Linked DNA regions of Homo sapiens: all the other regions are linked to region 1. The links come from fine-mapping of genetic effects on gene expression. A gene starts in region 1. Each other region holds a variant in brackets. All regions are shown on one strand. Distances are between the middles of the regions.

Region 1 (2,771 bases):
TTATAACATTGATGAGAAAAAAAATTCAATTCCTGGGCCAGGCTCACTGTGTGGAGTTGACATGTTTTCCCCATGTCTGTGTGGGTTTTCTCCAGGTCCTGGAGTTTCCTCCCACATCCCAAAGCTTTGCCCATTAGATGCATTGGTGTGTCTACATGGTGCCTGTCTGAGAGAGTGGGTGGGTGTATGAGTGCCCTTTGACAGTACTGCATCCTGTCCAGGGCTGGTTCCTGCCTTGTATCCTCAGCTGCTGGGACAGGATCTGGTCAACCGTGACCCTGAACTGGAATATGCAGGTAAGCAGTTATCTTGTTTTTATCAATCTTTCATAAATGTATATATAGCTTAGATTTATTTCAATGTTTATTATTAGAGGTGTTTTGAGTATTTAGAGGTTTAGTGATGTTTTTGTGACTAGGAATATGCCATAAGAGCTTAACTCTTATTTATATCAATTAGCTCTTGGGAAAATTGTCTTCATTATCAATTGTTTCACTTTATGTCACAGTTTCCAGAACCTACAGAGGACATTAAGTGAGGACTTACTGTATATAGGTGGTTGTGCTTGTGAAGGATTAAATGAGGTAATGTGTGTGAAGCACTCAGGACAGTGCCTAGCACCTGGTAAGTGTCCATGAATTGGAGGCTATTATTGCTGTAATAAGGAAATTCATACACATTAAAATGGCTAAGAAAGTTCATTTTAAATAACCGTAACATGCACATTTGTATTGCTTTCTCGGATGATCTTGCTATTCTCTATTTCAGAGGAAGTCCGTGGAGAAGCCTGCCTGTTAGCTGTCTAGGGGTCAGGTGGCTTCTTGGCAGTATATATTACATGATAAACATTGACTTAATATGGACCATAACCACAAGGTAGAAAATAGGGAAACAGGGAGTGGAAAAACCACAGTGATCCTTTCCTAGAGAGAGACCAAAATATTAACCGCTGTAAACCTCTCATGTTACAGTTCGAACACATCTTAATAAATGATTAAATCTACTCTCTCATTTCATAAGTGGGGAACTGAAGCCCCCATAAAAGTTAGGGGCAGAACTATGACTATACTCAGACCACTCTTTCCCTGTATATTATATATACCTTTTATTATAAAAAATTTCAAAAATCACAGAAATACAAAGACTAGAACAATGCACACCTATGTACTCATCATCCAGCTTTAATAACAATCAAACTGTTACCTCTCTTAAAAAAACAGCTTTGATTCTGAGTCTGGTGTCATTTATACTCCTTCACAGAGATGTTCAGAACCAGTATCTTAGAGCACATCCCCCAGGCAAAGAAATGTAGCAATAAAAAGAGAAGGACATAGCATGAGAAAAAAAGGCAGGCTGTCAACCAATGCCTAAAATGTAGAAAGTTCTCTCAAGTTGTTTTTACAATAGTCTGGAAAACACAGTCTCATTCTGAAAGGACACTGTTCCTTTAAATTGCTTACTGATCCCACCCAGATCTTGCACCCTGGCCAAATGCCTGACCACTCTTGCTTTGACTTAGTCGAATAAACATGAACAAAAGACTGCAAAAGATCCTAAAGCAAAGACACTTTTATTTCCCACAGAACAGAACAATATCAAATAGCTAACTTCACCCCCAACCACAGTCCTTGCTGTTGGCATTTACTCAACTAGTCTTTAATTCCTGTTTGACAAACTTTATAAGGTAAGACATAACAGATTTATTTTAGTCACTTGAAATCAGATAGGACCATCAAGGAACTGTGGAAGACTAAATGACTTACTTACATAATTATTAGGTGAGAAAGCTTGTCAATAGTTTGTATTCTCTGCAATTACTTCAAATCAATTATTAGAAAAATATTAACATTGTTAAAATGTAGAAATTTAAAACTTAAAATTATTTTGAAATGGATTTTTAATTTACAGTCTTCTAAATTGTTTTACAACGATGTTAATATATTTTAGGACATCTTTTTCTTAATTTGGAACAGGGTTTACAATTCAGAATTAGTTATAGAATACTTTACAACTTGGCTAATTTGTCAATTTGAATAAAGTCTTTATTCAATCATTTTCTATTTGTGTAGAAACTGAGATGCAAACATTGTAACTAAAGTTGGTGAACTCTGATATAAGATCATTTTATTTTTGAAAAATTATAAAAAATAAAGTATCTTGGATTTATTTACTGATCCTGATATTTACCCCAAATAAATTTTAGGCCAAAAGTAAAACTACGGTATTTGATTAATAATTATGATTGTTTCTGCATTTATAAAATGTAACCTATAGTAAACACAGAGGTTCACATTTCTTTCACTTAACTAATGGCACTGTTTCCTCTGAAACCTATTTTGCTTGTACGTGACATCAGAAAGAGAGAAAGGTGAGAATTATTAAAAACAGAGGCAAAATAAAACATGGTAAAAAGTGATTAGAAATGAGTGGGCTCTCAAGATGCCAAATTAATAAACGAGAAAGATATTTCAGGGAAGCAGTAGAACTAACAAGCTAGAGAAACAAATCTAGAGAGGTATGAAAATGTCCTCTGGCTACAATAGGGAAACAGAAAGAAATAACAAGACTTTGGTTTGGGAGAGCTAGATTAACAATGTCAGAGCAAATAAGAACAAAATATGAGATACTGGGATTATTGTCAATGGAAAAGTTATGTTTGTGAATATCATATATACAGGGATCAGGTACAAATTCATGATTATATGCCAAGAAAACAGTAAGAGCAGGTGCTTAGTTTTGGGAAAAGATAAATCTTTATTTAAAGCCAGTAT
Region 2 (2,771 bases), 26 kb after region 1:
CAATTTTTCACATCTGTAAAACATGTGGTAGAAAACAAAGTGATGCCTAACTCAATAATAGAACCCCCAAATGCCTTTTTTATGGACCATTAAGACTTCATTTTCTGACACCCTAACCTTGGAGGCCACGCCCACTGAATGTTATGGTAAAAAGAATTATTTAACCTGCAAAGTTAATTAAAGCTGCAGTTAGGTCAGGGTAGAAGTGCTTTCCAGATGCAAACACTGAAAACAGGCACTTTCCAAAATAGTGTGAAGAACTCTGAAATCAGTCAGTGAAATAGTTATAAACAGTGTGGTGCAACTAGACATAGAGATTTGGAATTTTGAAAATGTAGACACAAACAATTGGATAAATATTCACCTTTATTTTAAAAAATAAATATAGGCTGAACGCAGTGGCTAACACCTGTAATCCCAGCACTTTGGGAGGCCAAGGTGGGTGGATCACCTGAGGTCAGGAGTTTGAGACCAGCCTGACCAATACGGTGAAACACCATCTCTACTAAAAATACAAAAATTAGCCAGGCATGGTGGCGTGCACCTGTAGTCCCAGCTACTCAGGAGGCTGAGACAGGAAAATTGCTTGAACCCAGGAGGCAGACGTTGCAGTGAGCCAAGATCGTGCCACTGCACTCCAGCCTGGGTGACAGAGTGACTCCGTCTCAAAAATCAATCAATCAATCAATCAATCAATAATGAAAGCACTTAAATTTGGAAATAATATTATGTTAAAGAGTTCCTCAAAAGGCCAAATATATACAGAGAGTATATCTGAAACATGATGTTAAAGGGTCCAAAAAAGTACAGAGTAAAAATAAATAGTTTTCATTATATTAAGAACTATTAACATCATGCCACCAAGATACCAAACTTTTTCAGTTTCTATGTTATAATTCTGGAAGGGAGTCAAGGAGAGAAAATGAGGCAGAAGGTTAGGAGAAGAGGGTGAGATAATGACTTTGGCCCATGAAACTAAACACTTTAAATAGATTGAGACTTTCTGAATGCTTTTAAAGTACTGTAGAGTTAAAGTCAGGTGGATCTGCAAAAGGTAGGCTTGGTAATTATCTCTGGTCAAAATGGGAAATGTGAAAATGAATAGATTCTTCCTGGAGTATAACTGAACATGGAAGATGGACCTGGATATTGGCAATGCAGAAAAAGGGACACACATAGAATAGAATAGAAATGAAAGTCAAAGAATACCTGGGAAAACTAGATGAAATTAAAATGGTTGACAAAGGATATCATATTTCATTGACTAAGATGTCAGGGATTATTAAATGTCCCATTATTTTCCATACCAAAAAGGAATAACAACAA[C/A]AAAAAAAACCCACTGCCAATTATAAATGTAAGGTGCAATTGACTGTAAAATATACCCCAATGTCAGAGATATAAAAATGTGAAAAAATGTGCCTTAGAACTGATGAGATATAGAGTCCTTGACACGAAGAGTTTACACAAGTTTGTTCAGAAAAACATATGAACAACATGAAGAGATAGAGAAGTGGAAATTAAAATGGCTAATAAATAAGAAAAATATCCGAATACAGTAGCAATCAGATAAGTGAAATTAATACATTAAAATTAGGCCGAAGTGGGAGGATCACTTGAGTCCAGGAGTTTGAGACCAGCCTGGGCAACATAGTGAGGCCCCGTCTCTACAAAAAATTTAAAAATTAGTTGGACATGTGCCTGTAATTCCAGATACTTGGGAAGCTGAGGTGGGAAGATTGCTTGAGTCCAGGGGGTTGAGGCTGCAGTGAGCTGTCATTGTGCCACTCTACTCCAGTTTGGGTAACAGAGCGAAACCCTGTCTCAAAAAAAACAAAATAGGCTGGGCGTGGTGGCTTATGCCTGTAATCCCAACACTTTTGGAGGCCAAGGTGGGCAGGTCATCAGAGGTCAGGAGTTTGAGACAAGCCTGGCTAACAAGGTGAAACCCTATCTCTACTAAAAATACAAAAATTAGCTGGGCATGGTGGTGCACACCTGTAATTTCAGCTACTCGGGAGGCTGGAGCAGGAGAATTGCTTGAACCTGGGAGGCAGAGGTTGCAGTGGACCGAGATTGTGCCATTGCACTCCAGCCTGGGGGACAGAGTAAGACTCCATCTCAAAAACAAAACAAAACCAACAATAAAACAATAAGGTATTATATCACCAGTGTGGGCAACTAGGGAGGCTGAGGTGGGAGGATTGCTTGAACCTGGGAGATAGAGGCTGCAGTGAGCTACTCCAGCCTGGGCAACAGAGCAAGACCCTGTCTCAAACAACAACAACAACAACACCAGCAACCAAAAGCAAACATACAAAAGTATTATATCACCTATCAAATTAGCAAACAGTGAAGTAATGTATAATACTAATTGTTGATGGGGAGCCCATAAGATGAAGATACACTCTCTCATACTCGGGTAGTGGAAATGATTAACAAACAAACTTTATGGAGGAAGTTTCTCTCTCTTTATTTCTATATATGGCATGAGAGACAAAGGACAGCCGGTGAACCTTAAATGTGCTTATGGTCTCTGCTTCCATCATCCTCTTCTAGTAGACTATTCTTAGGAGTGAATCAGAAGTTGGGCAGAGATTTATACATAAAGATGTTCATTATAATATTAGGTCAAAGCTAGGGAAATGAGTAAATAAATTATGGTAGTTCCCTATTCTTGACTATTATCTGTTTACTATGAGTTTTTAATGACATGGAAAAAGGAAATTTTTTTTTTTTTTTTGAGACAGAGTCTCGCTCTGTTGCCCAGGCTG
Region 3 (2,771 bases), 420 kb before region 1:
CAATCCTCCAAAACCACCCCAACTCCAGACCCATTCCTGCTGATACATCTCCACTACAGTCCCACCATCAAATCTATGATTTTTTCAACATTTGGATCAATTTCTTTTTCCTTTCTGTACAGGTAATACATGTTCTCCTTTCCTATCGAAAGCCATCTCCTCCACTTCTGATTTAAATTCTGACCCTCTTGTCTCTCAGGGACTTCATTTCTGCAGTTATTATCTCCATCTTCTTCATCATCAAATTATTGATTTTTCCCAGTAATGTTTGAACATGCTGTTATGCCAACATTTACTTTAAAAGGCAAAACAAAGATTCTTCTGCCATCCCTTTCCATCTATGGTCCAAATTCTTTGATCTTGTCACAGCAACAGTTCTTGACAGAGATGTCTACATGTTACTTCTGATATCCTATTTAATCCTATTAATCTACTATTTTCCTGTTTAGTCTATTCCAATCTGGCTTCATGCCACTGAAAACTGCTAATCAATATCAACTGCCTCCATATTGCCAGACCCAGTGGATATTTCTGGGACCTCTTCCTTTTCCAGCTTTTAGCAGTTTTCCACATTGCTGGTCAGGCTCAGTTCTTTAAAAAAATCTCTTCTATAGGAGTCTGGGACACTGTACTCACCTGTTCTGTTTCCTACTTCTCTAACCACTACTGCTCAGTGCTCTTCAGGTTCTTCCTCCTCTAGTTCCCTCTAAAAATTGGCCTCTATTCTCTGCTTGCTTCTGTATAAACTCACCTTCTTGGTAATCTTAGACATTCCCATGGCTTTAAATACTGCAAAATGCTGGCAACTCCTAAATGAAACTCTCCAGCCCAGACATTTCCTCCAAGATTCATATTTGTATATTCAGTTGCCTGCTTGATACGTCAAGTACCCATGAATACTTGAAGTGAATGTGTCTAAAATGGGCCTAAAATCTTAATTTCCATATTCCTGCTTTCTCTTAACCTCTGAGAAAATTGTCCCCATTTTTTCCCCATTTCAGCAAATGGTTTCACCATCTATCCAGTTATTCCAAACAATTAACCTAGACAATATTTTTGATTTCTCATTTTTCTCCCCACCATCGCCCCCTCCAACCCAGCAGCTAGTCCTCTCATTTGTTTTTAATAAATGGATGTCTAATCCATCCACTTCTATCTCTTCTGCTATTACATTAAGTCAAACTACTGTCATCTCTTACCTAATCTATTGCTGCAGCTACTCAACTTGCCTCCCAGCTTCTACTCTTGCCTTCTTTAATTTAGTTTCTACTTATTAGTCAGGGTAAACTTGGAAATATGTTGAGCCACATTTCCTGCTTAAAAATGTTCAGTGTCGGGTGGGCGCGGTGGCTCACGCCTGTAATCCCAGCATTTTGGGAGGCCAAGGCAGGTGGATCACAAGGTCAAGAGATCGAGACCATCCTGGCCAACATGGTGAAACCCCGTCTCTACTAAAAATACAAAAATTAGTTGGGC[A/G]TGGTGGCACGTGCCTATAGTCCAGCTACTCGGGAGGCTGAGGCAGGAGAATCGCTTGAACCAGGGAGGTGGAGGTTGCAGTGAGCCGAGATCATGCCACTGCCCTCCAGCCTGGCAACAGATTGAGACTTCATCTCAAAAAAAAAAAAAGGTTTGGTGTCTTCCAATAACTTTGCAATGAAATCCAAATTCCTTAAAATAGCTTAAAAGGCCTGACCTGGCCTGACTACTTTTGCTCTACTCTTCTCCTCCCCTTTTCAGTTCCAGCCACAATGCCTCCTTTCACTTCCCCTGAAACGCTCCTGCATGGCCTGCATACAGGTGTCTCCTCAGCCTAAATCACTTCTACCTCCCTGCTCCTCAATTCCCTTGAAATGCCATGTCTTAGAATGTCCTTCCTGAGTCCTCACCCATCACTAATAACCTATAATAATCTATCATTAAGTCAGTTTTTTCCATCTATTTTGCTCATTAAATGTTGTCAATACACATTTGTTTACCTCCTAATGGCAAGTCTTTCCTACTAGATTGTAAAGTCTCTAGAGGCAGCGACCTTGTTTGTCTCTTCTGTTCACTACTTGATCACTTAACACCTATGTAGTTCCTAGGATATACCACGTGTTCAATAATTACTTGTTATAACTTTACTTGTTGCTGATGGCTTCATCATTCATTATTCCAGTCCTTGTACAGTCCTACTATACTTTCTGTGGGAGAGTTTCCTATAGTCTTGTACTCAGATCCCTTTTGTCATGTCAATAATTTGAGTAGGTTTCTGCTGTTATATCAAATGACCACTAATTGATGCAGCTTTTAAAAGGACAAGGTGATCAGCAATGTCACATGCTGCTGAATGGGAAAGCAGGTTAAGAGCTAAGCAAAAAGCACTGGATCTCATCACTGATCATCTTCAAGCCAATAGTGTCCATAAAATATGGCCCAATCGAAGCCAGATTACAACTAAGTTAGCAAGATGGGTACGAAGGTAGATGCATCAATGCAGAATATTCCTTTTAAGAGTGTAACAATTAAAATAAGGCATGATATAAAATGGGATCTTGGGGTTGAGCAGAGCCAAAGAAAGTACATGTTAGTCTAGTTTAAAAGAAAAGACAGGCCAGGTGCGGTGGCTCACGCCTGTAATCCCAACACTTTGGGGGGGCAAGGCGGGCAGATCATCTGAGGTCGGGAGTTTGAGACCAGCCTGACCAACATGGAGAAACCCGATCTCTACTAAAAATACAAAAGTAGCCGGGCGTGGTGGCCCATGCTGTAATCCCAGCTACTTGGGAGGC

Direction of the effects. Positions count from the first base shown, and alleles are read on the strand shown. Sizes are in standard deviations (SD) of each study's normalised expression. Not every link is listed here.
For the expression in iPS cells of the gene that starts at base 1,561 in region 1, allele A in region 2 goes with a higher level than allele C (moderate effect, 0.66 SD a copy in HipSci).

The links. PIP is the estimated chance that this variant, and not a neighbour inherited with it, causes the effect.
Region 2: its variant is fine-mapped to the expression of COL28A1 in iPS cells (HipSci, PIP 0.92).
Region 3: its variant is fine-mapped to the expression of COL28A1 in cerebellum (GTEx, PIP above 0.99).

The regions. Positions count from the first base shown.
Region 1 is chr7:7,534,663-7,537,433 of GRCh38, reverse strand. COL28A1 (collagen type XXVIII alpha 1 chain) reads left to right here and starts at 1,561. Exons shown (of 35, transcript NM_001037763.3): 1 at 1,561-1,684.
Region 2 is chr7:7,508,201-7,510,971 of GRCh38, reverse strand. All of the region lies in intron 9 of COL28A1 (collagen type XXVIII alpha 1 chain), which reads left to right. Among named protein-coding and RNA genes, the nearest start is that of COL28A1, 26 kb to the left of the region's middle. The variant C/A (reference allele first, on the strand shown) is at 1,327.
Region 3 is chr7:7,959,432-7,962,202 of GRCh38, reverse strand. All of the region lies in intron 1 of GLCCI1-DT (GLCCI1 divergent transcript), which reads left to right. Among named protein-coding and RNA genes, the nearest start is that of GLCCI1-DT, 7.9 kb to the left of the region's middle. RefSeq lists an enhancer at 1,871-2,000. The variant A/G (reference allele first, on the strand shown) is at 1,477.